Regions from separate parts of the Homo sapiens genome. Here all the other regions are linked to region 2. The links come from fine-mapping of genetic effects on gene expression. A gene starts in region 2. Each other region holds a variant in brackets. All regions are shown on one strand. Distances are between the middles of the regions. Region 1 overlaps LOC105377975 (a long non-coding RNA gene). Region 2 holds the start of MAN1A1 (mannosidase alpha class 1A member 1). Region 3 has its middle 87 kb from the start of MAN1A1.

The links.
Region 1: its variant is fine-mapped to the expression of MAN1A1 in whole blood (TOPMed, PIP above 0.99).
Region 3: its variant is fine-mapped to the expression of MAN1A1 in whole blood (TOPMed, PIP 0.95).

Annotation. Positions count from the first base shown.
Region 1 is chr6:119,637,569-119,648,466 of GRCh38, reverse strand. The region is part of intron 2 of LOC105377975 (a long non-coding RNA gene); the gene reads right to left. Among named protein-coding and RNA genes, the nearest start is that of MAN1A1, 290 kb to the right of the region's middle. The variant A/G (reference allele first, on the strand shown) is at 4,372.
Region 2 is chr6:119,347,613-119,352,612 of GRCh38, reverse strand. It overlaps MAN1A1 (mannosidase alpha class 1A member 1), which reads left to right and starts at 2,852. Exons shown (of 13, transcript NM_005907.4): 1 at 2,852-3,071; 2 at 3,326-4,150. The coding sequence starts at 3,548. RefSeq lists silencers at 2,292-2,931, 3,442-3,641, 3,702-3,821 and an enhancer at 4,032-4,381.
Region 3 is chr6:119,431,280-119,442,177 of GRCh38, reverse strand. No RefSeq gene overlaps it. Among named protein-coding and RNA genes, the nearest start is that of MAN1A1, 87 kb to the right of the region's middle. The variant G/A (reference allele first, on the strand shown) is at 5,456.

The sequences.
Region 1 (10,898 bases), 290 kb before region 2:
GGAAATTATAGTATAATGCAAGTTTGTGTTATACTATATATTAACAAATATATCACACATGTATCTGACAGGACTATCTCCCGTAAGTATTACTTTCCTGAATGTGTAGAGGACACTCAGCTAAATTTGAAAGTACTCTTCAATACACAAGCAAGTAAAAAGATTAAACAGGCAAACATACTCCATGTCTGACCAATTAAAAATGCTTTTTAAGTTTTAGGTCACAACTTATATTAGCAAATCTCTCCTCTCTTCTCCTCCCCTTCTTTGCCCTCCCCTCCTTTGCCCTCCCCTCCTCTCCTCTCCTCTTTCTCTCTCTGATACAAGCAATAGTTTTGCTGTGAAATTAATATTTTAGCTAAGCCATAGGTTATCTTTATTCTTAAGAGTTAAAAATGTCATATTATACCTTTCAACTTCCCTTTATCAAGCTCTAAATAGAAGGGAAGTACAGTGAACACATTTCAAACACACAGAGATAAAATTAGGCAAAAGAAGAGCAACAGATATATGCAGAGTCGCAACAGATCCCTTCATTTTTGCCAAAGATGTTTCTGCAGGGTACCTCTATTCTCTACTTCTGTTAACTTAATAAATGTCTTAACTATGTCATTCACATAATGATATTGGGAGAAAGATTCTGGCAGACCCACTCGAAGATGTTAATAGAGTGCCTCAGAAAATAAATATTATTTTCATTTATCTCATTAATCCTGGCTATTCCTTCCTTCCCTTCAGCCAGGCTGCGTCAGAAAGGCATGTACTTTATCCATATGACAGAGTTATAGGAAAATTGCCACTCACACTTATAAAATGAGCCATTTTCATTTTCTGACAACCATTTATCTCTCTGCCATCAGGCAATATCTAAACTTTTTATGTGGGCCTTATCTTAAAGATGAGTTCCTGTTGAATCTCAGAGGTTGTCAATATATTTTTAACCTTTGAAGGAAATGCTGTCTTTCCAAAACAGCCACATTTTATTTGCCAAGAGTGATACTGTACTATGACCACTAAAACAATTATCCAAAAACTTTGGCAAGCTACTGTATTCTGCTTTTTGTAACATGACCACATTACTAAGTAATTCACGAAAAATGTGTTTCAAATGAATGCAGTATCATTGAACATTAACACTCGATAAAGCAGACAGGGAGATTGCAAAACTTGTTATTAAATTTAGATTTAAATAATCACAAATAACAAAACCATAATAGATTTTTAACTTCAAACTTCACCTCCCAAACTTCCACTTTTGTTCTTTTTTACATAAAGATACCAAAATGTATGCAATTTACATACACTTCTGCTACATTCCAGTTTTTCAAATTACCATCATTTTCACCTCACCAGTTTCTGTATCCTCTTTACTACAATTTGTCCTAACCTTCTTAGTTCTTTCCCTGATTCAAACACATATTTATCTGTAAGCTACAGCATTTTTGCTATTCCAGGAAATTTTTACCCCTAAATTGGTGAGTCTTTGCCATTCTGCTTTCATTTTAATGAGAGTTTATAAATTGTTTGTTACTATAGCCTGTTTTATTTCCCCCACAATATTAGCTGTATCCAAAAATCTTTTGCTATGTGTAGCATATGCAACAAACCTTATTGATCAGGCTTCTTCTTCCATTGGAAGATCTTCAATTAATCAATTCCCCAACTCATATTGACTTTAACCAACAATTTGTTTGTAAAGAATGCATTATGAGATCCTTCATGACAAGCTTTTCTTTTTTTCCCACAGCATCTGTGCCGTATTTTCATTTATCATTCTGATCTCCTCTCTTCCCTCCACTCTGCTACGTGCCTTGGGAAGCTGATCTGCACCAACAGGCCCCCTTGGTCCCTAACTTCCAGTTGGGGTCACCCAATGGAGAGCATCTGCAGGAGCTTGGCAAGTAGGAGGCAAGTGAAATTGAGGTCATTATGCCCCTTGCTCCCCCTTCTGATCTCTGCATACTGGTTGACCCTGCTAGGCAAACTTCTCCATACAGCTACCCTCTTCTGATTCTTGTCACCACTCTATCTCATTGCCACCTCAGCTCTAGGGGTGGAAACAGCTTCTCATTTTGGTAGCCCTTGGATTATGAACTATCTCTTCTACTTTCATAAGTGATCCCTCTATTAAAATTACTTCAATCTATGCAAACTGAATGTTCTTCTAAATGCCATACCTTCTTAAAGGCCTTTGAAAATACTCTGAAATTCAAATTCTATTTTGTACATGTAGGTCCTTTATCATCTTACTTTCCCAGTTTTGTATTGAAGTCATTAGTCTTAAAAATTTGTATATTTTGCTTACAGTTTTCTGTCTAAAAATCTTTGCATGATTATTGAGAAAATCTGAAAATTATGAAAGAGAAAAATACATGTATTATGCCAACACCAGCACAAATGTTTTGAAAAACTTTTCTTTGTATGAAATTTTACACAGGTATACTATATCTTATGTTCTTGTTCAATATCATATCATAAGAAATTATTCACATCGTTCAAAACTCTTTATAAAAATTATTTTCAGAGACTACATACAATTTTCTCTCTAAATATGTTATAATTTACTAATTTTCCTCATGCTGAATATATACTGTAGATTGTTGCTCATATTCACCATTCTTAATAACACTTTTATAAACATCATTATGTGCAAAATTTCTTTAGGTATTGATTCTTAAAAGTGGAATTAATCAGTAAGTAGTTATGAATATTTTAGTCTATTGATACATATTATTAAATTGCTTTCTAGAACATTCTCACTTCCATTAGTATTATATAAATGAATGACTCACTGACCCACATTAAAATTCAGTACATTAAATCTTTAATATTTTCTATAGGTCAAAAATTGGTGCTCATTGTTCTTTTAATTTGCATTTCTTTAATGGGTTGAACATTTTATTTTCTCTTTATCAATTATCAGTTTAAGTACTGTTGTAGTCCTATTGTTCATCTAATTTATGTAAGCTCTTTATACTTTAGGGTTATAAATTCTGTTTTTAATGATATTCCTTGCAAATATTTTCCCCCACCCCCGAGTTGAAGCTTGTCTTTAAATTATGGTTTGTATTGTTTGTTTTTAAGTACCAAAGTTGTTTGAACTTGTTTTTAAAGTCTGTTATAATTTTTTTCTTTATGATTTCTTCCAGTGCTTTTAAGGCTATAAGTCCTTCCAAATCTAGACACAGAATAGATGTTAATCTTTTCTATATTTTCTGGCTTGATTATTTTATTGTTATTTCTGTATTTCTCTCTGGAATTTGTTTTGGTAGAGTATAAGATAAGATCTAAACCAATTTTGTTTCTTTTTCCTATTTTTTAAACAAATATCAAAGTAACTATCCCACCATCATTAATTTATAATATTTCATTATTTGTGTCACCTTATATTTACTAAGAACTGTTTGGCTACCAATTTTTCCCTTCATCTCACTTCATTTTTTATAACACTATTCTGCTAATTTATCATATTTAATATGTCTTCATGCCTAGTAATGCCAAAAGAAATTAGTCTTTTTATTCTTCAATTATCTTCAATTGAATTAAACATTTATGTATCACACACTAAGACCAGAAATTCTGATTTGTACTACGTGGCATACAAAAAAATAAATTCAACATGATCTCAAGAAGTTTACAAAATAGTTGGAGAGAAAAGACATAAATACAAATAACTACAGTACAAGTAGAAGGAAAGTGGTATCAGAAAGTTATGTGGTTCTATGAGAGAATTGAGGAAGAAAATGATAGACTAGAATCAACAGGAAATCCTTTGTGTAGAAGATGGCATTTGATCTAGGCCTTGAAAAAGAGCTGGGATTTCATCAGGAAAAAGTGAGAAAGAAGAGCATGTCCATCAGGGAAACCAAGATAAGTGAAGCCATTAAACTAGGAGAATGGAAGATTCATTTGGGCAACAGGAAACAATCCAGTATGGTAAACATGTATGGGGCTTTAGGGAGAAGACAGAGGACCCATTACAATTTTTAGCAGGGGCCAGGAAAGATCAGAGCAGGTAACTGACTGTATCAGGCCTCCAATGCACAGCTATCTACCTTTTCTGTATTACCCACTCTCTATTTTCTACAATAATTTCTCTTCAGGAAAACCTTCCCTATTCACTAATTTTTAAACAATAGGAAACAGAATCTCAACCAGAACCCAACAGCACCAGCAATTGGTCTCAGATGCTGCCTCAGTGTTGCTATCGATGGTATATCGGGTCTGATTTTCTTTCTTTTCCGATAGCCTTGAAAGGCTTGCTTGAATTCATCTGGGCAGTTATCATTCTTTGGGCTCTGCTTTAAACAAATTTTGAAACCTTGAAATGACTCCAGCAACATCTGCTTCCCTCTTAATCTGCTTTTCAAC[A/G]GAAGGCATTCTTGCGGCCCTGTATGTGCCCCTTTAACCACGCTGGCTTACCAAATGTAACATTCAAATATTTTCCTGAGCTCCGCGTGTAGCAAGTCATTGACCATGGCTTCATGCCTGCAGAATCTCTGCTGGTCACTATAGGCTAGCCTCTGTTAAAGTAGCAAATAAACCACAAAATATTATTGGTTTAGTCTAATTTCAATTTATTTCTCATTTGGACATAGCATGGCATTGATAGGGCTGCCCTCCTTCAACTTGTAGCTATTCCAACTGCAATGCTTGACCTTCAAGATCACTGCAGAAGTAGAGAGTAGTGGAGAGAGAGGTCAAGAGGAATGTTTTAAGGGACATTTCTGCCTTCATCTCACTAGCTAAAACTCAGAGGTATTGCCCCAACTTAAGTGCCCAGAAAAAGGAAATGGTGTAATTAAGCACAACAGGCATCTGCTTCAGAGTTAATACCATTTAGACCCTCGCTTTGGTTTGGTTTCATACTTATATCCTCTAGTCTAAAACCACACCCTATGTTCCTTCCCCTATGACATTTAATAGAGAACAAAGATTCCTACATCCTGATACATTTTCCTGGAGGGAATGAACAGAACTGTTCTGTACAGTGTTCTATTAAGTGCTCTAAATCCCTTTTTCTTCTAATGGCTGTCATTAAAATAGCATCAATTTTCTGAAAGCTAACATTGACATCAAATCTGAATTATTAAGAATATGTTCCTTGAGTTTATTATAATTGACTTTAATCAGGGTTCCATTACATACTGCTCTCTTCCCAGAGAGCTACTTTTATGCAGTGAAAAATATGACTTCTGGACAATTACTCCTTTCAATCAAATTTTAGGTTGTCTACTCCACTCCCAGAGGTTGGATATTTTTATTTCTATATTTTCTCAACCATTTTGTTATGTAAAAATAAAATAAAATAACATAACAGCCTCTACTTCTCTCCCTTTTCTTGCCCTTCTCATTGTCTCCTTGCCTTTCTTTCTCCATCCATTCTTATTCTCTACTTCCGCCCTGCCTTTCCTCTTATTCAAAGTTCTCATGCATGGCTGGCTTATGGAAGTTTTGGAAGGAAGGGCTTCTGATAATTTCACTTTTTCTGTTTCTATGATTTTTCTCTCTTCATCAGAGATTACCTGCCTTAGATCCACATATTTTCATTGGCACCCCCTCCACTTCCTGAATTTCTACCACATCTCAGTCTCCTTCTTCAGACTCCAAGGCCAGATTGAAATTATTCACTGCCACTGATAAAGCTAAAAGAAAGTCCCTGCGAGCTTAGTGGGCAGATCTAGCTTTATTTTATAGTTAGTAAAATTGAAACATGGAGAAAATAAGCAAATACTTTTAAAATTAAATGCCTTATACCCTATATCAGGAGTAGGCAAACTATTGCCAGTTTTTTACAGCCCACAAGTTAAAAATGGCTTTTACAGTTTTAGAGGTTGTAAGAAAAAATAAAGAATAACATATGACTGAGACCATGTGTGGCCCACCAGGCCTAAAATATTTACTAGCTACCCCTTTATGAAAAAGTTTGCTGACCTCTATTCTCAACTATAGCTCTATTTATTTGATTTATATAATCACAAAGATGCTGGGTAAGTTTGGGTCCTCTAGCAAACAGATATCAAGAAAGAATTCAAGGGCAAGAGATTGATTGGGGGGATAGGAAGTAGAAGTAATCAGGGAAAGCCTTCAGGCCAAGATGCAAAGCTGATACCTGCAAAAGGAGAGAGGGGAGGAAGGGGGACTCATTAGGAAGCATCTCAGATACAGTAGGGCTTTGAGAAAGTTTGAGCCAACCCAATGGGAAACACCAGTGCAAAGATCACACATATAGAAGCCCCATATTGGGCAGAAATTTCCAGGCCCTATGCTCAAGCATCAGCTGGGAGCAGCTCATGGGAGTATGGTCTCAAAGTGAAAGCTGAAGCAGATCCCAACAGTGTGGCAGATGGAGGTTGTCAGCTCCTAACACTCCTCATAACAGATTCTTAACCTAAGTCAGTTTTGTCTCTCTGCTGTCTCTCCTACTCCACTACTTTTGTATGCCAGAATTCAAATATCATTATCACTAGTGATCTAATTTAAATTTTCATTCAAGTGTATTAGAGACCGTGTGAATGAATAATGATGAAAAAGTAATGTAAGCTGATACCGACTTCTCCAGTATGTTTAGATTTTGCACATAACAATATTATTTTTTCTCTATTAAAAAAATGAAGATAGCCTTTAAAAATAAACAACTTGTATTGCCATGGACTATTTTTCCTAATCTTATTTAAAGATGAAGATGTTAACAAGATTACACTCAGCCAGCAGCACTCACATGATGGATGCATAAGCTGCGATCACTCAGGGCTATATAACCTTCTCCAGGACCTGTCATTACTTTGTAGTCTACAGAACACTGCACTAGGTCACCCATCTCTACTTGTTAACATGTTGTCATACTGCCTGCTGGCATCACTTACCCAGCTTCTGGTCTGTCACAGTTATTCTTTAGCCATCACCTGTGTGTACCCACCTAAACATACACACACAAACACACACTACTGTGTGTCTGCTCACTATGCCATCAACACCCTCATGCACTCTTACCTGACTGTACCTGGGACCCTCCCCTTGCCTGCACTGCCCCTCTTCTCATGTAAAACTACTGCCTATCTTTCAAGGTTTCAAAGTTCAACTCAGGCTCTGCTCCCTGTGTAGACCTTCCCTGGCTACTCTGGCTCTCAAATATTTATCTGTCTCTGACCTTCTACAGCTCTTTAACACTATGCTGGGCACTTTCATGCCACATATGTAAGTCTTGCCTCATCAGGTAGCATTTATGTCCTCATGATGACAGATTATTTCTTGGACTGCCTCTGTGCCTCTCACAGCACCTAGCTGGCTCTCATCCATAACTATCTGGATGGAATACCCTACCTTCAAACTCCCTACCCTTCCTTCAAGGCTCATTTCAAATTCCACATCATCCGAATACTTTTTCCAAGTCCAACTTAAGACTGCTTGGATTTTTAATATACTGTATAATTCTTTCTGCTTTGAAGCATAATTAGCTGCTTATATAGTTTTTTTCTCTATCATAATTAGTTTATAATATCTTAGAGGACATATTCATCTATGTATTCTCTATTATACTTTATTCTCTGCATAAACCTAACCTTCAGTTTTGGATTAGTTGAAAGAATGATTGAAGAAGATGGTAATAGTTGAAGCTTTGTTGAAAAAGCAAAGTGGCGTGAAAGAAAATGTGACCAGTAATGGGAAAAATCTTCAACTAAAAGCCAGTGGTAGACACTGATATGGTTTGGCTACATGTCCTCACCCAAATCTCATGTTGAATTATAATTCCCAATGTTGGGGAAGGGACCTGGTGGGAGGTGATTGGATCATGGGGGACTGATTTCCCCCATGCTGTTCTCATGATAGTGAGTTCTCACAAGATCTGATGGTTTAAAAGTGTATGGCACTTTCCCCCTTGCTCTCTCTCTCCCTCCCACCACCGTGTGAAGAAGGTGCTTGCTTCCCCATCACCTTTTGCCATGATTGTAAGTTTCCTGAGTCCTCCCAGTCATGCTCCCTGTTAAGCCTGAAGAACTGTGCATTGATTAAACCTCTTTTCTTTCTAAATTATCCAGTCTCAGGCAGTTCTTTATCGCAGTGTGAAAACAGACTGATGCAGATGCTGACTAGCTTTAGGGTCTGCAAAAGCCAAGTAACTTCTCTAAACATCAACTTTAGCATTTGTGAAAATTTGTGGGTATAATAAACTGTAACAAATAACAATGTTTAAGAGCACAAGCTCTGCAGTATTTGAATCTCAGCTTGGCCAATTATCACTTAGGAAGTTATCTAACTATAACAAGTCTATTTTCTCACTGGTAAAATCATCATAGTGCAAAATGATAGCCTACTTCATAGTGTCATTCTAAGAATTTAATGAAACAATGTATATAATGATCATCACAAAAGACCCAGAATATAGAAAACTTGGTATGCCTGGCAGGTATTATTATCATTACTATTACTATTACTATTATTATTATTATTATCATCATCATTATCTAATATTCTTTTCAGGTGTAAAAGTCAATGATTTTATGACAGCACATTCAATAGCATCATCAATCTCTGAATACATTCTTACTTGAAGACTCAAGTAAACACTGAACTGATAATTTGTTTGCCTATTAACATAAGTAGGTTTCCTAATAGCGATCTCTAATTTTTAGACTATTGGTATACTACAATGAGAAATCCACAGGGAAATTAAAATATACTTGATTACCAGAACTCACTGTTGACTATTTTAGCAAAGCCTTATAAAAGAGAACAATCAAGATGGCCACCATCATAATACACTTAGAACTAGTGTTGATGGTGGCAGACCCAAAATATATTTAATCAAACTGACTTATGTTCAAATCCCAGCTCTACAATTACTGCTGTGAGAACTCTGACCCTTTATAAATTGCTAAATTCCTTGTGTTTGTTTCCTTGTCTGCAATCTATGATAATAATTACTGTAAATTCAAAAAGTTATAAACATTAAATAAATACACGTAATGAGTGTCTGGCATACAATAAATGCCCAATATGTGTTGGCTATTATCATTATCCATTTGTTAAACATCATTATCCATTTATTTGTTAAATATTGTATACACAAGTACTGTACTCTGTGCCTGCAAAGTTCACAAATAGAAAGTATTATTGTTATTATTATTATTATAGCTGCTGCTGTAACACATGTAAGACTGTTGTGTGGAAATATTGATCAGAGAAGAAAAATATATATTAGAGCAAGAAAGACAAAGCATCAAGGTTCAAGTATAGAAGTTAACTTAGTAAATTCAGGGGAAAAAATTCAAATTATGCTGACCTTGAGGTAGCATAGAGAGAGAAACAGAGAAAGAAGATCTGTAAGCAGGCCGTAACAAGGGAATAAGACCAAACAAAGAGAGGACAAGGAGAGAATAGTGAAATTACTTTCATTTTTTAAATCACAGAGTAAGAGAAGCAAAATCATCATGGAAAATGATCACATAGACATAAAGGCTCAGGCAAAGCTGCTCTGTGTGTGTGCTGTTGCTGCTTTCCCTGCCTATAGCATCCACACCTATGCTACCCACATTAGAATTATAAATATAGATGCAAATGAAATGTAGTTATGGATGATGTCTTCAAGAGCCATCTGGGAAGAATTTGTGTCTAGACAAAGAATGATGCCATAAAAAAAAGGAATATGACATACTATAAAAGGCTAACTTGAGCCTGTTGCTCGAGAAAGCATCCTGAGACTGGTGATCTATAGCTCCTTCTGATAATTTTGGATGACATCAGTATTAAGCAATAAATTTTAAAGTTATATTTCCAAGCTGTCTCAACCAGCTCACTTGCCAGCACTGATGAGTGGAAGGAAAACATGGATGTCAGGGACACACAACTGGAAGAAGTTGGGTCTCACTCTCTATTGCTTGCCTGCCCTCCAACCTTTACCACTACCACACCCACCTCCCAACCATCACCCCCACCTGTCCAAGGTTGGGCACATTAGGGAAATAGTAGAAAAAGAAACAACATGGACTTCTTATGGTCCTCTTAAAGCATGGGAAAGCTTAGCAGGAAAATGAAGACCATTGATAATACATTCATCCAGTTTTCTAATCTAAGATACCAAAAAATAATCCACATGACAAATGTAACAAGTTAACTTTGAGAATAATTTAAAGCATTATCTAATAATAATCGGATTATATTAAATGTGTTGCTATTTATGTAACTTTTTAAAGATAAACAGGATTTCAAGAAACTTTCCCACTGGCATAGGATCATTGTAGACTCTATCCTTTCCCTCCACCACTTCTTATGCTCTCCTCTGTCCCTCTGTTACCCTCACCTTAGATTCCTGAATAAATGTGTGATTTCACGTACTGTTGAGGCCTTTGGTAGAAAATTTTAAGAATCACAGGATTTTGCTTCCTTTGCATCACAAAGACAAATACCCTTAGATGAATGTGTTGGTGCAGAATGAAAAGTTTCTCACTTCCCACACAGTATTTTAATAAGCAACGGTTAAAAACCTCCCTCTACCCTGCGGTTCTTTGATTCTGCATCTGTCACTACCTTTGTGTTACTACATTTGTAAATTTCCCTCTTTTGAAAGTCATAATCTGTCCCTCATCAACCACACCACCCAACAGCTTTCCTGATGAGAATACATAACTTTTCCTGTTTTGGTCTCCTGATTAGGCACAGGAGAATGTAATACCACTTGCCTGTTTCCCCCCTCAGTGAGATGGGAAATTGCTATTTTCCTCTATGTATCCAGAAGCCATTCGTGTGGAGCTGGCTGCGAGGCTTCTATCTTGCTGCTCAGCTATAATCTCTTTCTTTTATTTAGTGATTTCCTAAAACTTGGCTTCTAGAGAAATCACCCCAACAAGCTGTAGTCCATTTCGAAAGCATGCAGTCATTTTGGAATTTTCTACAAATAT
Region 2 (5,000 bases):
AGTAGAAAAATCTAAGCAACAACATTTATTTGGGGATTTCTTTGTAGTGTTTTGTGGTATCACTGATGATCAGGTTTTTAAAAAATTACTTGATTCAAAGATATAATCTTGAAACACAAAAATTTACAAATTATCAAAGAAATACACAAAAACATTAAGTATTGAAAAAGGAAAATGTAAGAATTAAGTTTGCAAGCAAACCTGCAAAAATTACAAGAGAGTTATACTTCAAAAGGACTGGCTGGCCAAATAAAAAAACATAGCAAGTATTTTTTTAAAAATCCCACAAAATTACTAAGGTTCTTAGGTTTACATTAGACCATCCATAATGAGAAACAGCAATTTCAGCACTATCATTGCATTCATAAAGATGGTGACATTACCTTCAGGTAGATGTGGCTAGGGAGTCTTGACTTAGGGGACAAAGTCAAGGTTTCATTACTTAAAAGACAAGAACCAATCACCTTTATTTTTATCTCAGGGTACAAAGTACTTTTTTCAATGGTAGAATGTCAAGTGCTTTGTAGTACTGAAATCAGAGGAAAGTGTCCGATTTTGCTTCTACAAAATGCACAATTTTACTTGTTGACTATTTTCTACTCCTCCCTTACCATGAGCACACAGGGCTTCATGTGATTATTTTAAAGAGGATGCATAATTCGATTGCTATGCCTCTTCAGATACCTTCTTTGTGAATTTTTCAAATTTGCTCTGGCCCAAATATTGGTGTTCCTATATAGTTCTTATCCCACCTAATGTACACAGACACCCTTTAATATGTACCTATAATCAACCACCCATGTTAACTTCTTGTTTAACATATTATCAAAGCCAGGCTGCAAGTATAACCCTGTCATTTAAGAAATACGGAAAATAAGAAAAAAATCTTAAAATAAGCTTCATGATGAACTTAAAAAGAATAGTTACTTTAAAAGATGTAGAAACAACATAGATAAATTTAAAGTTTTTAGGGGAAAAAATCCTTAAACCCACGTACTAAATTTTTAATATTTCCACTACAGAAGTTAAATGCCCAAACTGATTTGGTATCAAAATTAAAGTGTCAGAAATAGAATTAAGTTATAACTTTTATTTATCACCATTTTAACATATACTTAAAAGTGGAATTTATTGTTTTGCTGGAATACTTAATAACATTAATTTGAAATAAAGCTTCTAAATATTTCCGGGGCTATAATTCCATTCTTACAACATAATTTTTAAAATAATAAATCATTCCAAAAAAGGATGATCATAAAGAGATTAGCGTTTGGGGTAGTTAACCCAGTTCCTATTTATCTATCCATTCAAGAGGTAACTCAGTTTTAAGGATGTTGTTAGAAACATTATTTCACAGTGATTCAAACCTTTCAGCCTATGCACAACCTACAAATGCATAATCGTTTGAAATAAAAATTGCCTTTCCATCATTAAAGAAAAATCATCTTTGTTTTCTTTTTCAGTCCTTCTGAACTTATTACCCTGCTTGGATATGCTGCACTCTTCTGGACATAGAATTTCATAGCAGGTATCAAAATAACCAAGCCATAAAGCCAGCTTTATCAAACAATAATTTCCTATTAACAAGAACTTTGAGTGTATTACTCATTTTACACAAAACAAGTAGACGACAAATAATGATGGTTAAAATTAATAATTAAATGATTAAATGAAAACTAGTAAGGATTTCTGATTACTTTTCTACTTTCTCATACAGCTTAACACCTGGAAACAACTGTACTGGAGCCACCTTCCCGAAAGGTGCCAGCTGTTTCCTTTGTCTTAAGCACAAACAGAACTAATGTCACATTTCCAGAGAAGGGTAAGGATGAAATAAGGCGACTACAAACCAGCTTTCAGAAATGCGAAGTCAGTCAACGTTTTCCTCTCTGATAACCCCTTATTTGTGGAGCAACAGGAGAATTACAACACATTTTGGAAAATAATTTCTATTGGACCAACTCCTCACTTCGCTGGAAGTAGTCGGATCCAAGACTTAATTTCAACACAGTGTTCGACTTATTGCTTGAAGCTACCGCAGCATAAAACTCGTCTTCGAATGGAAAATTTGACCAACTTCTATGAGGTAAATGAATAGTGAAAGTACGGGTGGGCGGGAGAGACATACAAGTTTTTTCGGTTTTTTGTTTTTTGGGGGAAGAAAGGGCGCATACGAAAAAAGTCCTAAGCAAGCACAGAACTGTGTCTCTTAGGATGTAAAAGGATGTTATACCAGAGAGCTCAAAAGCTCCCAGGGTCACGGCTCCCCTAACCGAGGGACTTGGGGTTTCACTGCTACCAGGCACCCGGGGAACCCCGGCCTTGGATAAAAAGAGGGTAACTGGAGTAAAGCCGTGCTTCTGAACGACCCAGCGCCCAGGACCCCCTGCCAGACCCCGCCTTTCCCGGGACCCCCTCGGGAGCGCCCCCGACCGCCCCGCACGGGTCGGAGGAGGAGGCAGAGAGGTCCCGCGCGGACCCAGGCGCCTCCCGGGCCAGTCGAGGATCAACCACCCCGGGGACCCCTGCCGAGGCCAGCGCAGGATAAACTCCCCGACCCCGAACTCTGCCTGCCGCTTCTCGGCGCTGGGCCTCAGCCACGGGTTCGACCGTCCTCCTCACCGCGGCTCCCGCCTACCTCGCGCCTCCCGGCCCCGCGACCTCCCCGCCGCCGGCCGGGCCCCGCCGAGGCTGCGCTTCCCGTAAACTCCCCGCCCCGCGCATCCCCCTCCTCGCCTCGGCCCCGCCCCCGCGGGACCCTGGGCGGCGCGTGATTGGCCCGGCCGCGCCGTCACTCTCCGGCCGCGTCGCCTCCCTCGCTTTCCACCGCCCCAAGACCGGCAGTGAGATTAGTGCTCGCGGGGCCGCGGCGGAGTGTACCGTGCTGCTCTACTCGCTGCCATTCGCCCGCAGGTCGGCGCGCTCGCCCACCTGAGCCGCGCCGGGGCTGCGGGACCGTGGGACAGCGCGCTCAGCCCAGCCTAGGAAAGAGGCAGCAGTCTCAGCGCGGAGATGGGGAGCGGGCGAAGTTGACGAGTCTCCCGCCCACGCTGCGCCCCTCCTGCCCAGAGGTGCGCTGCCCCTCCCCGAGGTGCTCGCGCGCTGCCCTGACCCCTTCCTGCGCGGGACACCCCTCCCCTACCCACGGGACCTGATAACTTCACCCCAAGTCCAGAGAGTGGGCTGCGAGGGCGGTGCCCGGACTGGACAGGACTCTGCTTAAGGGGAGCGGTCCTGGAGGCTCGCCAGGAGTCGGAGGGCGGAGACCCGCTGGAAACTTTATCATCGCCGTAATTACTACGTTTTACTGTTTCTCTCCCCGCAGGGGCTGCAGCCAGCGGTCTGTCGCGCGTGCCTGTGTGCCCGAGGAGCCGCCCCGGGGAGAAGACCCGGCGCGGAGTTGTTCCCCCAGGGAGGATCCGCAGCCCAGCCGAGGGGGTCGGGCGGCCTGGCTACGCAGGACCCAGCCCCGCAGCCGCGGACTCCCAGCGGCGGCGAAGTTTGGCTGCTGAGCGGCGCGGCGCCGGACCACTGGACAGCGGGAGCGATGCCCGTGGGGGGCCTGTTGCCGCTCTTCAGCAGCCCCGCGGGCGGCGTCCTGGGCGGGGGGCTCGGCGGCGGCGGTGGCAGGAAGGGGTCGGGCCCCGCCGCCCTCCGCCTGACGGAGAAGTTCGTGCTGCTGCTGGTATTCAGCGCCTTCATCACGCTCTGCTTCGGGGCGATCTTCTTCCTGCCAGACTCCTCCAAGCTGCTCAGCGGGGTCCTGTTCCACTCCAGCCCCGCCTTGCAGCCGGCCGCCGACCACAAGCCCGGGCCCGGGGCGCGCGCCGAGGACGCGGCCGAGGGGCGAGCCCGGCGCCGCGAGGAGGGGGCACCCGGGGACCCGGAGGCCGCCCTGGAGGACAACTTGGCCAGGATCCGCGAAAACCACGAGCGGGCTCTCAGGGAAGCCAAGGAGACCCTGCAGAAGCTGCCCGAGGAGATCCAAAGAGACATCCTACTGGAGAAGAAGAAGGTGGCCCAGGACCAGCTGCGTGACAAGGCGCCGTTCAGAGGCCTGCCCCCGGTGGACTTCGTGCCCCCAATCGGGGTGGAGAGCCGGGAGCCCGCCGACGCCGCCATCCGCGAGAAAAGGGCAAAGATCAAAGAGGTGAGTGGGCCGCGCCAGAAATCCCTCCCGACCGGCCGTGTTTTTCAGGGAGAAACGGCAAGCCTTTGAAACTCTGAAGACTGCAACAATGCAATGTATGGGGAGATGGAGGTTTGCCCCTTCCACCAGGTGCTGTGTCAAAAGCTCTTTCTTTTCCTGTTTCCAATATAGTAGTAGATGTGTCCAGTAAGATCTAAGGTCAAATCTCGTTGCTTTTAATTTGCATGCTCTTGCTCTGGTGACCACAAGCCACACGAGGTGGGTATAAATACATGGGCAGGTAATACGCAAACCTCATTCTCTGGCCGCTACACGGTTAATCGCCCCACCAGTAACAGCGACGGCACTGATCAGCCCCCTGGTAAGGATTGGGGACGTGGCTTTAAAGTGAGTCTTCACGCGTGGTAAAGCTAGCCAGCATACCCCGGGTTCAGCTGTGTGGCCCTTGTCTGCCAGGTGGCATTCTGTGTGTACTTTCAGACTATAAAGGTGAAACCTGAGAACTTCCCATCATCGAGGGATACTATTGTTTACTTTTTTAAAAAATGAAAATATAAAAAGCCAGTCGGCTGCCTCTTGTATTTCTAATGCACAGCCAGAAATAGGGTATTCCATGTGATGCAACAGGTTTGCCTCCACAGCAGCACAATGGTGACAAAGTTAATCCAGGATAAACATGGACTTTGATACATCTTTCCTAATTTCCTTCTCGTAATTTTCAGTTAGAACTTGAAACATGTGATTAGGTCAGGACCAGCTTAAAGCTGAAGGGGGCCGTAAAAAGTCCTTTCAGGCTGTCATTTTCAAGATGAAGATCGAAGGGCCCAGAGCTCTAGAACCCGTTAGTGAT
Region 3 (10,898 bases), 87 kb before region 2:
TGGTTCGTGGTCTTGCTGGCTTCAGGAGTGAAGCTGCAGACCTTCGCGGTGTTACAGCTCATAAAGGCAGTGTGGACCCAAAGAGTGAGCAGTAGCAAGATTTATTGCAAAGAACAAAAGAACAAAGCTTCCAGAGTGTGGAAGGGGACCCGAGTGGGTTGCCACTGCTGGCTGGGGCAGCCTGCTTTTATTCTCTTATCTGGCCCCACCCACATCCTGTTGATTGGTTCATTTTACAGAGAGCCAAGTGGTCTGTTTTGACAGGGTGCTGATTGGTGCGTTTACAATCCCTGAGCTAGACACAAAGGTTCTCCAGGTCCCCACTAGATTAGCTAGATACAGAGTGTGGACACAAAGGTTCTCCAAGTTCCCACCAGAGTAGCTAGATACAGAGTGTCGATTGGTGCATTCACAAACCCTGAGCTAGACACAGGGTGCTGATTGGTGAGTTTACAATCCCTGAGCTAGACACAAAGATTCTCCACCTCCCCACTAGATTAGCTAGATACAGAGTGTCAACACAAAGGTTCTCCAAGTCCCCACCAGAGTAGCTAAATACAGAGTGTGGACTGGTGCATTCACAAACCCTGAGCTAGACACAGGGTGCTGATTGGTGTGTTTACAAACCTTGAGCTAGACACAGGGTGCCGATTGGTGTATTTACAATCCCTTAGCTAGACATAAAGATTCTCCAAGTCCCCACCAGTCAGGAGCCCAGCTGGCTTCACCCAGTGGATCTCGCACTGGGGCTGCAGGTGGGACTGCCTGACCATCCCACGCCGTGCGCCTACACTCCTCAGCCCTTGGGTGATCGATGGGACTGGGCGCCGTGAAGCAGGGGGCGGCGCTCGTCCGGCAGGCTCCGGCTGCACAGGAGCCCACCAAGCGGTGGGGCCGGGGAGGCTCAGGCATGGCGGGCTGCAGGTCCGAGCCCTGCCCCGCGGGAAGGCAGCTAAGGCCCGCGAGAAATCGAGCGCAGCGCCGGTGGGCCAGCACTGCTGGGAGACCCAGCACACCCTCCGCAGCTGCTTGCCCAGGTACTAAGCTCCTCATTGCCCAGGGTGGACAGGGCCAGCCGGCCGCTCCGAGTGCGGGTCCCGCCGAGTCCACACCCACCCGGAACTCGCGCTGGCCCGCAAGCACTGCGCGCAGCCCTGGTTCCCACCCGTGCCTCTCCCTCCACGCCTCCCCGCAAGCTGAGGGAGCCGGCTCCGGCCTTGGCCAGCCCAGAAAGGGGCTCCCACAGTGCAGCAGTGGGCTGAAGGGCTCCTCAAGCGCGGCCAGAGTGGGCGCCAAGGCCGAGGAGGCGCCGAGAGCGAGCAAGGGCACACGCTGTCACCTCTCATAACTATATAATCCATCGTCCAAGTAAGATGTGATTCCTCTGTTCAAGAATTTATTGTTGTAGGGGAGAGGGGTGGGTGGGGAAGGAGGAGATGTTGATCAAAGGGTGTGAAGTTTCAGTCAGACAGGAGGAATGAGCTTTTGTGATCTATTGCACAGAATGGTGCCTATCATAAATAATAATGTGTATTTCAAAATTGCTAAAAAGAGTAGACTTTAAATGTTTTCATCACAAAAAAAGTACTTAATGGATTTGTTGATTGTCTTGATTTAATTATTCCATAATATAAACATGTATCAAAACATCACATAAATACCGCATAAATATATACAATTATTATGTCAGTTAAAAATAATTTTTTTAAAAAAGTCAAGAAAGAAGAATTTATTGGTGCATGGAGAGGCTTGCATTTGGGGTGGTGACGCATATAACAAGAAAAGCAGACAATATGGAATGGTTCCTAGCCCTGTCTCCACTGATTTAAGAGCTAGTTGCCCTAAAATCTCATTAAACAATTGGGACACAAGGCAATGGTACTTTGGCAACTTTCTAAGTGTATTAAACCAAAATAGAGGATGTCTCCCCAGACTGGCTTAGAGAAGACAAATCTTGGAAGTGCAGCTGAAGGAGGTGGGAAAATAGGACAGGGGAGGGAGAGTGTAGGAGAGCAAGGGTAAGGCCACTCAGTAATTGATGAGACTTGTTTGTGTGTATATATATGTGAGGACTTTCAGACGTTCCAGGAATTTATGAGGCTAGAGTCCTCCATAAGTAGGTAGAACAAGAGCCAATGAACGAGGTTACAGGTAGAAATTCTCACAAACGAGAAATATTTAGGTGGTAGATTTGAGAAGGATTTGCAGGTTTTGTGGGAGTACTAATGTTTATATTTTGGCTATTTGTTTACTTTTGACTTTTTAGATTAAAGCATCTTTAGACATGTCAGTTTATTAGACTGGTTTTCAAATTTACTTTGAATTATATATCTATTGTTTTTACCATTCCACACAGGTCCAAAAATGTCTAAAGAATAGTTGTGTAAAACTTTGCAACTGTAGTGCCTGATAATACATTTTAGCTCCTAATAATTCCAGGATATCAAAATTACTGGCTGATTTTTTTACAATTCCAGGAAATACAGGCAAAAGCCAAACCCATTATTATAGGTCAAGGAGATAAAACACTCAGTTGACTGAATTAGTTTACTGTTCAATCATTACTTTTGACAAGGTAGAGACTAAAAATGGCAATGGAAACTTACTTGCTTATGGTTGTTAAATTTTCTGAATTGGTAAATAATTTTCTGAATTGGTAAAAAAAAAAAGGAAAGCACTTTTCTCCTTTTGATTTTGAAATTATATAGTTACAATGATTCTTATTTTGTACTTTGTTAATTAAGAACTTATACAACAGTCATGTTTCAAAAACATTACAGATTACAATAAAGCCAAGGAAATGTTAATTTTTCTAGAAGAATATCTTAGGAAAAGCTTTATTACAATGGGTCCATTTTTATATACATTACACCACTGAAAATAATAAGCAAGATTGCTTCAAGAGTAATTATCAGAGGATGTTGCATCTTGTCTTTTAGTCATGTATATATACTTTTATATTTCTTTGACATTACAAAATCTAAAATATATGTGGCTAGTAGACACATCCTTAATTTCTAACATATATTCTAGTCCTAAAATTCTATACCTAGGATATTCTATTATCAAAATCTGTCCAAAGGAAAAATAGAAATCATCATCACAATTGATTCTATCTTCTAAGTACCAAAACTGAGTGGCTCTCTCAAATCTCACTATGAGCTAGAACAGAATCTCAAGTTCTTTCTTAGGCTGTAACACAACAGCTAATTTTCTTTTCATCTTCATTCATTCTTTTCCATTTACTGAACAACAATTACTGTGTTCTCAGTCACTGAGAAATCAGAGATAAAGGTCCCTGCTCTCCAGGAGTTTGGGGAGCAAAATAATTTTAATATAAATGAAAAAGCCCTATGAGCTAAGCACAGGATTTACAGTGAGCTCACAAGACAGACAATGAAACCAAACTGGAACATTTCTCTGAGGAGTTGATGCCTGCCCTGAGTTTTGAAGGATATACAAATGTGAAAGGGACAGGAAGGATGTACCAAACAGCAATAATAGAGTGTGTAAAAATATAGAGGCAGGAGAGCACTTGGCCTTTTCCACAAACTGAGGGTGGTCTGCTAAAATTTGAGTGATGGCTGCAGGTAATAAATGGCAGAGTGTATTACAAGATGAGTTTGGAAAGTCAGTAGGGGTCAAATTAGAAAGGACTTGCTCTACCATGCTAATGAGTTAGAATTTTTCTCTAAAGGCAATGAAGAGTTATTAAAGGTGTTAAACTGGACAATGAATGACATGATCTGGTTTTGTGTTTTCAAAAACTTACTATTTTTTAAGCTGAAGAATGGATTTTAATGGGATCAAGGTTGGATTTAAAAAGAGTAGTAGGGTAACTGTTTCTAAATTCAGCCAGTGACAAAAGAAGGGGATGGATCAGAGATATTAAAAATATAACATTTACAGGACTCTGCCACTAATTAGACATAATGTGAAGACGGTACGTTGAAACCAAGACTGTGTCCCAGTTTATCTTGGTTAACTGGCTAGCTGCTCATCCACTGAACAAGAAAGCACCCAGAAGAGGACCAGACTCAGTGGAGACTTCAGTTTTGAACACGTTGGCTTTGAGGTGCCTGTAGCACAGTCGGGATCAAAGGCCCAGAAGAGAAATCTGGGATGGAAAGGTGGGTCTGAGATTCATCTGCATGCAGGTCATAGTTGAAGCCAGCAACCTAAATAAAGCCTTTCACAGAAAGTGTGTAGATTAGAAAGCAAAGAGGTCTGGCCGGGCATGTTGGCTCACTCCTGTAATCCCAGCACTTTGGGAGGTCGAGGTGGGTGGATCACTGGAGGTCAGGAGTTTGAGATCAGCCTGACCAATATGGTGAAACCCCATCTCTACTAAAAATACAAAAATTAGCCGGACGCTGTGGCACACGCCTGTAATCCCAGCACTTTGGGAAGCCGAGGTAGGAGGATCACATGAGGTCACGAATTGAAAACGAGCCATGGCCAACATGGTGAAACCCTGTCTCTACCAAAAAACAGAAAAAATTAGCCAGGCGTGCTGGCCTGGGCCTGTAATTCCAGCTACTCGGGAGGCTGAGGTGGGAGAATCGTTTGAATCCAGGAGGCGAAGGTTGCAGTGAGCCGAGCCCGCGCCACTGCACTCGGCCTCCAGCCTGAGAGTGAGACCTTGTCTCCAAAAAAAAAAAAAAAAAAAAGAAAACAAAACAAAAGAAGAGAGGTCTAAGCACAGACTACTAGGGAGTATGCATGTTTTAGGAAAGCTAAAAGAAGAAGGAGCCAAAAAGATATTCCACAAGCTATGAAAGATTGGTATAATGGGAAAACAAGTGATGAGAATGTTTCATAGACAACATGGCCACTAATGCCGAACACTGAGAGATACAGTGAGAAAATAGCTGAAAAGCATCAGATTTAACAATGAGGACTCTGATGATTTGGAAAGATAATTTTTAATTATATGATGGAAGTGGACTGCAGTGAGTTCAGGTGCAAAAAAGAGAGAAAGAGGTGGAGACAATTGTCATCTTCTTGGGATAATTTCAGTTACAAATGAATTAGAAAAATAAGATAGTGAATAGAGTAGAAGTCAGCGGATAGAATAGAGTCAATAAAGGGTTTTGTAGGGATGTGGGTTTGTGAATGTGTTTTTGCTTTGTCTTATTTGGTACTGAGACAGCAGCATGTTTACAGGCCAAGATGAGATCCTGGGAAAACAAAGGTATAAGAGAGGGAGTAGTCTGCTACAAAACATTCAAAATCATAGGAAGAGGATCAGCAAAACAAATGGAGATTAAATTTCAGACAGTGGGAAAAACAATTCCTCTAAAATGAAGAGAGTAAGCTATGTCCTGGCCTAGACAGAGCTATGTTAATAGAAAGAGGTGGAGGAGGAAATAGGAAGTCGAGAAAATTGTCTCCTGATAGACTTGATCCTCTCTGTGCCTTAGGAGATAAGAAAAGCCATCTGCTGAGAGCATGA[G/A]GAAGCAGGTAGGATCTGGCGAGTGAAGAATATTAAGGTCTAAAATTGTTCAATAGATGGAAGCCCTCGTTTGCTCATTAGTAAATAGCTTACTGGAAAAATAATTTCAAAAATAAAAACATTTGTCAAAATGAAAGAATTAAAACTATTTTTATGACTACTTTCACTCTCTAACTTTTGTTTCTTAATTTCATTTGAATCCTTGATCCCTGCCAGTAAGTGGCACCAGCACTATAAGCATATTCTACACAATCAGCAATGCTTTCTGTACAGCAAATTGCAACACTACTGCAACAAACATAAAAAATTATTGTCCCACTATATTTACCTTATGTATACATTTACCATAAATTCCATTATTTTCCAAGACAATGGAATTCCTTTACGATATTAGTATTGGGAGACAGGCCTAAGGCTACATTAATAGGAAAACTATAAATTTAATTTTTACATTGAAGAGAATACAATGTAACCACAGTGTATCTAAATCCTTTACAAAGAGCTATATTATAATAGACTTCTGCTTATAATTTTCTCTTAACCTTTCATTTTGTTCTAATTCTACTTTAATTGCATTTTGATTATCCAAAAGGGAATAGTAAAATAAAATAAATGACACAATGATTAAGACACGGCAGTAATTTTAGCTTGGATTGGGGATAAATGATATACAACTGAGGTAATTGAAATATGCTATACAAGTGAGATTAAAACTAAAATGAATTTCATACAAGGCTAATAGTTGAATCCCTATGGAGTTACATTCTTAAGCCAAAAGTAATTATCTAAATCTGAGCAAAAACTTTTGGTGTAAGTCTCCCAATAATTTTTTGAGAATATAATGCAATGAAGTATAAATTAATGTTGCCTACAAAAATTAAGCTGAACATTTCACAAAGTAATAAGTTAGCTCAATATATTTTTGTCAAAATCTGTTTCATTCCTATAAGGACATATCACTACTGAGAATGACAAAAGATCAGTCAGAGAATATGGTACAAAATAATGTAGCTATGCCAGTAAACCTTGTTGTTACTATATGATCTTAAATTTGGCACTACTCCTCCCAAGCACTTCTGTAACTGGACCGTATCAAAATTAAATCCAAAGCTTTTTTTTTTGAGACAGAGTCTTACTCTGTTGCCCAGGCTGGAGTGCAGTGGCGCACTCTCGGCTCACTGCAACCTCTGCCTCCCAGGTTCAAGCAATTCTCCCTGCCTCAGCCTCCCTGAGAAGCTGGGATTACAGGTGCCTGCCAACACACCGGGCTAATTTTTTAATTTTTAGTAGAGATGAAGTTTCACCGTGTTGGCCAGGCTGGTCTCGAACTCCTGACCTCAGGTGATCTGCCCGCCTCGGCCTCCCAAAGCATTTTTATTTTACAACAGTCAAAAATTAGTCACTGGCAAAAAATTGTAAACACTTAACCCAATACATCTTTTTAGTATTTACAAGAACTGTACAAGATTTGCACATAGAAAACGTACACATATAATCTCCTAATTATAGTGCAGTGCCTGATAAAATAATAGAAAATGAACTTGTAAAATGGGCAATCTGTTGATGAACTTTATCCATTAAATACTAATGCATAGTTTAAGCAAAATGTTTAATTAAAAATAAAATTCCCTTTTAATTCCCCAGCTTTAGAGTTTATAAATGTAATATACTGTTATAATGTAAAACAAAAATTAATTTGAAAGGAAAAATGGAAAGGCAGTGGGGAATTTCTTTGTTGCCTCTTCTCAACCTTTAAACTTAAGAAGATTAGAGAGTTGTACTTTTAGAATGCTATGTGACACGGTGGTGTATTTAGCAAATGTGCTATCCTTTCCATTCACGGAGCTGTTATAAAGGCATGCCACTGAAATTTTCAGCTCAGTAGCAATTCCATGAAACATTAGGCAAGCATTCAGAAAAGAGCTGGCCAACCTAACTAATGTAGAATCAGAACATACAACAGAGAGAGAGCTAACTGGCTCAAAGACAGACAATTCACACTGTTTTACATTAAAATTAAGTTTAAAGTTAGGGCTAAATTTTATTGCCTGCTCTAATTGAGCTAATCACTCATTATATAGTGTTTACCTTCTTGCTTTTCTTTTTGCTATTGTTTAATTGTAGTTAAAAAAAAACCCCCATGTAACATAAAATTTACTACCTTAACTATTTTGTGTACAGTTTTGTAGTATTAAGTATATTCCCATTGTTGTGCAACAGCTCTCTAGAACCTTTTCATCTTGCAAAACCGAGATCCTATACCTATTGAACGACTCTCCATTTCCCACTTCCCCCACCCCATGGAAGCTACCATTTTACTTTCTATTTCTAAGAGTTCAACTGCTTTAGATCTCTCATATAAGTGGAATCATTACAGTATTTATCTTTTTGTGACTGCCTTACTTCAATTAACATCATGTCCTTAAAATTCATCCGTGTTGTAGCATGTGACAGAATTTCCTTCCTTTTAAAGCTGAATAATATTCCATTGTATGCATATAGCACATTTTCTTTGTCCATTTATCCATCAATGGATGGTTAAGTGGCTTCCACCTTGGTTGTTCTACATAATGCTGCAATGAACATCACGTGAAAATATTTCTTCAACATCCTGCTAATGTTTACCTTTTTTAATCAAATAATTATAAACTACATAAAATCTGTTTACAGAGTATATTATTCTGTAATGATGAGACAGATCTTTTATAGAGAAAGGGCTCAAACGAAATTAGGAACAATTACACAAATTGTAACTACTTAACTGAACAATGACATCAAAAACAAACAATAATGACCTCTCAGATATTTGAAGTTTTGTCTGTTTGTATCTTTTAAGGTTCTTGCCTAGTTGTTTGACTTATTTTAGTAATCAAGTTCAGTTTGTTATATCCAGGCAGAATAGATGCCTAAATGTCATTCTGGGAGAGGTTCAGATGAGGCTTATGTTAAGGGCTGCTTATTAGCCACAGGACTGATCCACGCCCCAAGCTTGGAGGCAAAGGAATCAGAAAGGAAACACAGAAAAGATGAGAAGAGGCCATCAGGGAACTATTTATATTATTTACTTTTGGGTCTGACTTATGCATATTTTTCCATCCTCTCTAAAAATTGAATTTGTCAAAAGACTGTTGAAAATTCAGGTTAAAATGAGTGTTTTTTTAAATGTACTCCATCCTAAAAGATTTTAATTTTAAATCTAAACTACATTCTTATTCACACGTTTAGTAAAAGGATGACAACTATATATTATAAACAATTTTAAGTATTAAGTAAAATGGATTCAGTAAGATGAAATCTCAAAAGGCCTTAAAATATTTGTCCAAAATAATCTATTAGTCCGTTCTCACATTGCTAGAAAGAACTGCCCAAGACTGGGGAATTTATAAAGAGAAGACATTTAGTTGACTTACAGTTCTCATGGCTGGGGAGGCCTCAGGAATCTTACAATCAGGGTGGAAGGGGAAGAGGTATGTCTCATATGTTAACAGGCAAGAGTGTAGAGAAGGAACTGTCAGACATTTATGAAACCATCAGATCTCATGAGAACTCACTATCACAAGAACAGCATGGGAGACACTGCCCCCGTGATCCAATCACCTCTCACCAGGTCTCTCCCTTGACATGTGGGGATTATGAGGTTTATAATTCAAGATGAGATTTGGGTGGGAACACAAAGCCTAACCATACCAAATACATAGTTTTTTTCTGAATCTTTTGCCATGAAATCTTATTTTTATCAGAAATAAAAAATGTGATATAGATTATTTTTTAAGTACACCAAAAATCAGTTAAAAGAGTCTATTGATCGGCAAGTGTCTGAGAATATGAGTTAGAAAAATACTTGATGTTCACAGATCTGGTCAGGTGTGGTCAGAAAGAACAAAATTTGAAGCGTAAATATCAAACAGTGCTGCCATCTGATGAATCCAAGACTTTCTGGTGTCAGGTGAACTTGTTCATCCCTAGAGTGCTGGTGAAAATCTTGTTCTATGCACTGTAATGAAAAGCTGTGTCCTTCTAATGGCTCTATGGTGATTTAGCCTAGATTAAATATTTAATGCTACAATCTTAGAGCAACTAATACTAATTATCTTCCTGTTCATAGTCCCAAAAAAGATCCCCAGATGCCCTCAATCCGGGGCCTTGCCTTCTGGAGCCAGGTTAACATCTGTCATTGAAATAGTCTGGCAGGCTGACGCTGTTTCTTTCCTATCTTGGAGCTACTTTGGAATAAAAACTAAATACATATGCCTGCAGAAACATCAACTAGCACTTCTCAAAAACCTACAAGTAATTTATGAGGATTCCATCTTTTCTGATTTGTCAGGGTATTGAGGGGATTGGAGGAAATGTGAAACTATTTTCAGACAGTATTACTCTCTTTTAGCAGATCTAATTAGTTAACAAATAAGGGAAGCATTTCCCTGGCTTAATGGGAAATGAATAAAAATAAACATAAATAAATAATGCTGGAATGAACAAAGAGTGTGTGAGAATCCTCAGATCAACAATTTAGGCATACTCCCAAATATTTGTTTTGGCAATAAGACAAAACCACCTATTATATTTCAAATAAAGCGTTTTTAATTATGAATGTTTCTTTTTTCCCTCACTTGAAATAAAAGTCAAGAATTCTGCTTTAAATCTTTCATCAAGCAGAGCTGCCCAAGAACCTGATATTTTAACTCTCTATCCAGGTAGTTCTCAAGTTTTGCAAACTTTGCAAAAAATGCATTGGATGTTTATTAATATGCTGATTCAGGGGCCTTAGCCCTAGAGGATCTGATACAGTAAGAATCTGATTTATATTCCTACACCAAGTGATTCTGAGGCAAATGGTCTGAGGAGCAGGATTGGCTACATAATTTGTAGGAAATGAAAATGCAGGCCCCTTGCTAAAAAATAATTGGAAATTTCAAGATGGTGACAGCAAAGTAATAAACCAAGAGTGAGGACCTTCGAAATGTGGGCCCCTCTGTGACTGCACAGGTCACAAGCCCATGAAGCCAGCCCCACTGGGTAGATTAGAAACACTTCTCCAGGTAAGGTTTAAGTCAGACAACGCTAGATGCTTCCAGAGCCCTTAGTGACTGAAATAAAATCTATCCCCACATTAGCTCAGAAAGCATAGCCCACGATGGCTTCTCTTCCCAAGGAATCCTTGAGGAATGATGACAGGACCTTCTTCTAGATGAGAATGGAAAAATATCTTTTTAAGTTTAGTTGCTGGAAAAATTCAGTAAAGAAAAAAATGTAAATAGCCAAATTTGGGGCCAGATGTCTTTATTGTTATTTTTCTATTTGATAGCTATTCTATGGTTCTATTTCATCAATGAGAGACCATTATAAAGTATAAAGCAGGGATAGAGGATTTAAGAAACAATCTTGTGCTGTGAGGCTTTTCTTCAGCTATACACAGCCCCAGCTGCAAGCCACAGCATGA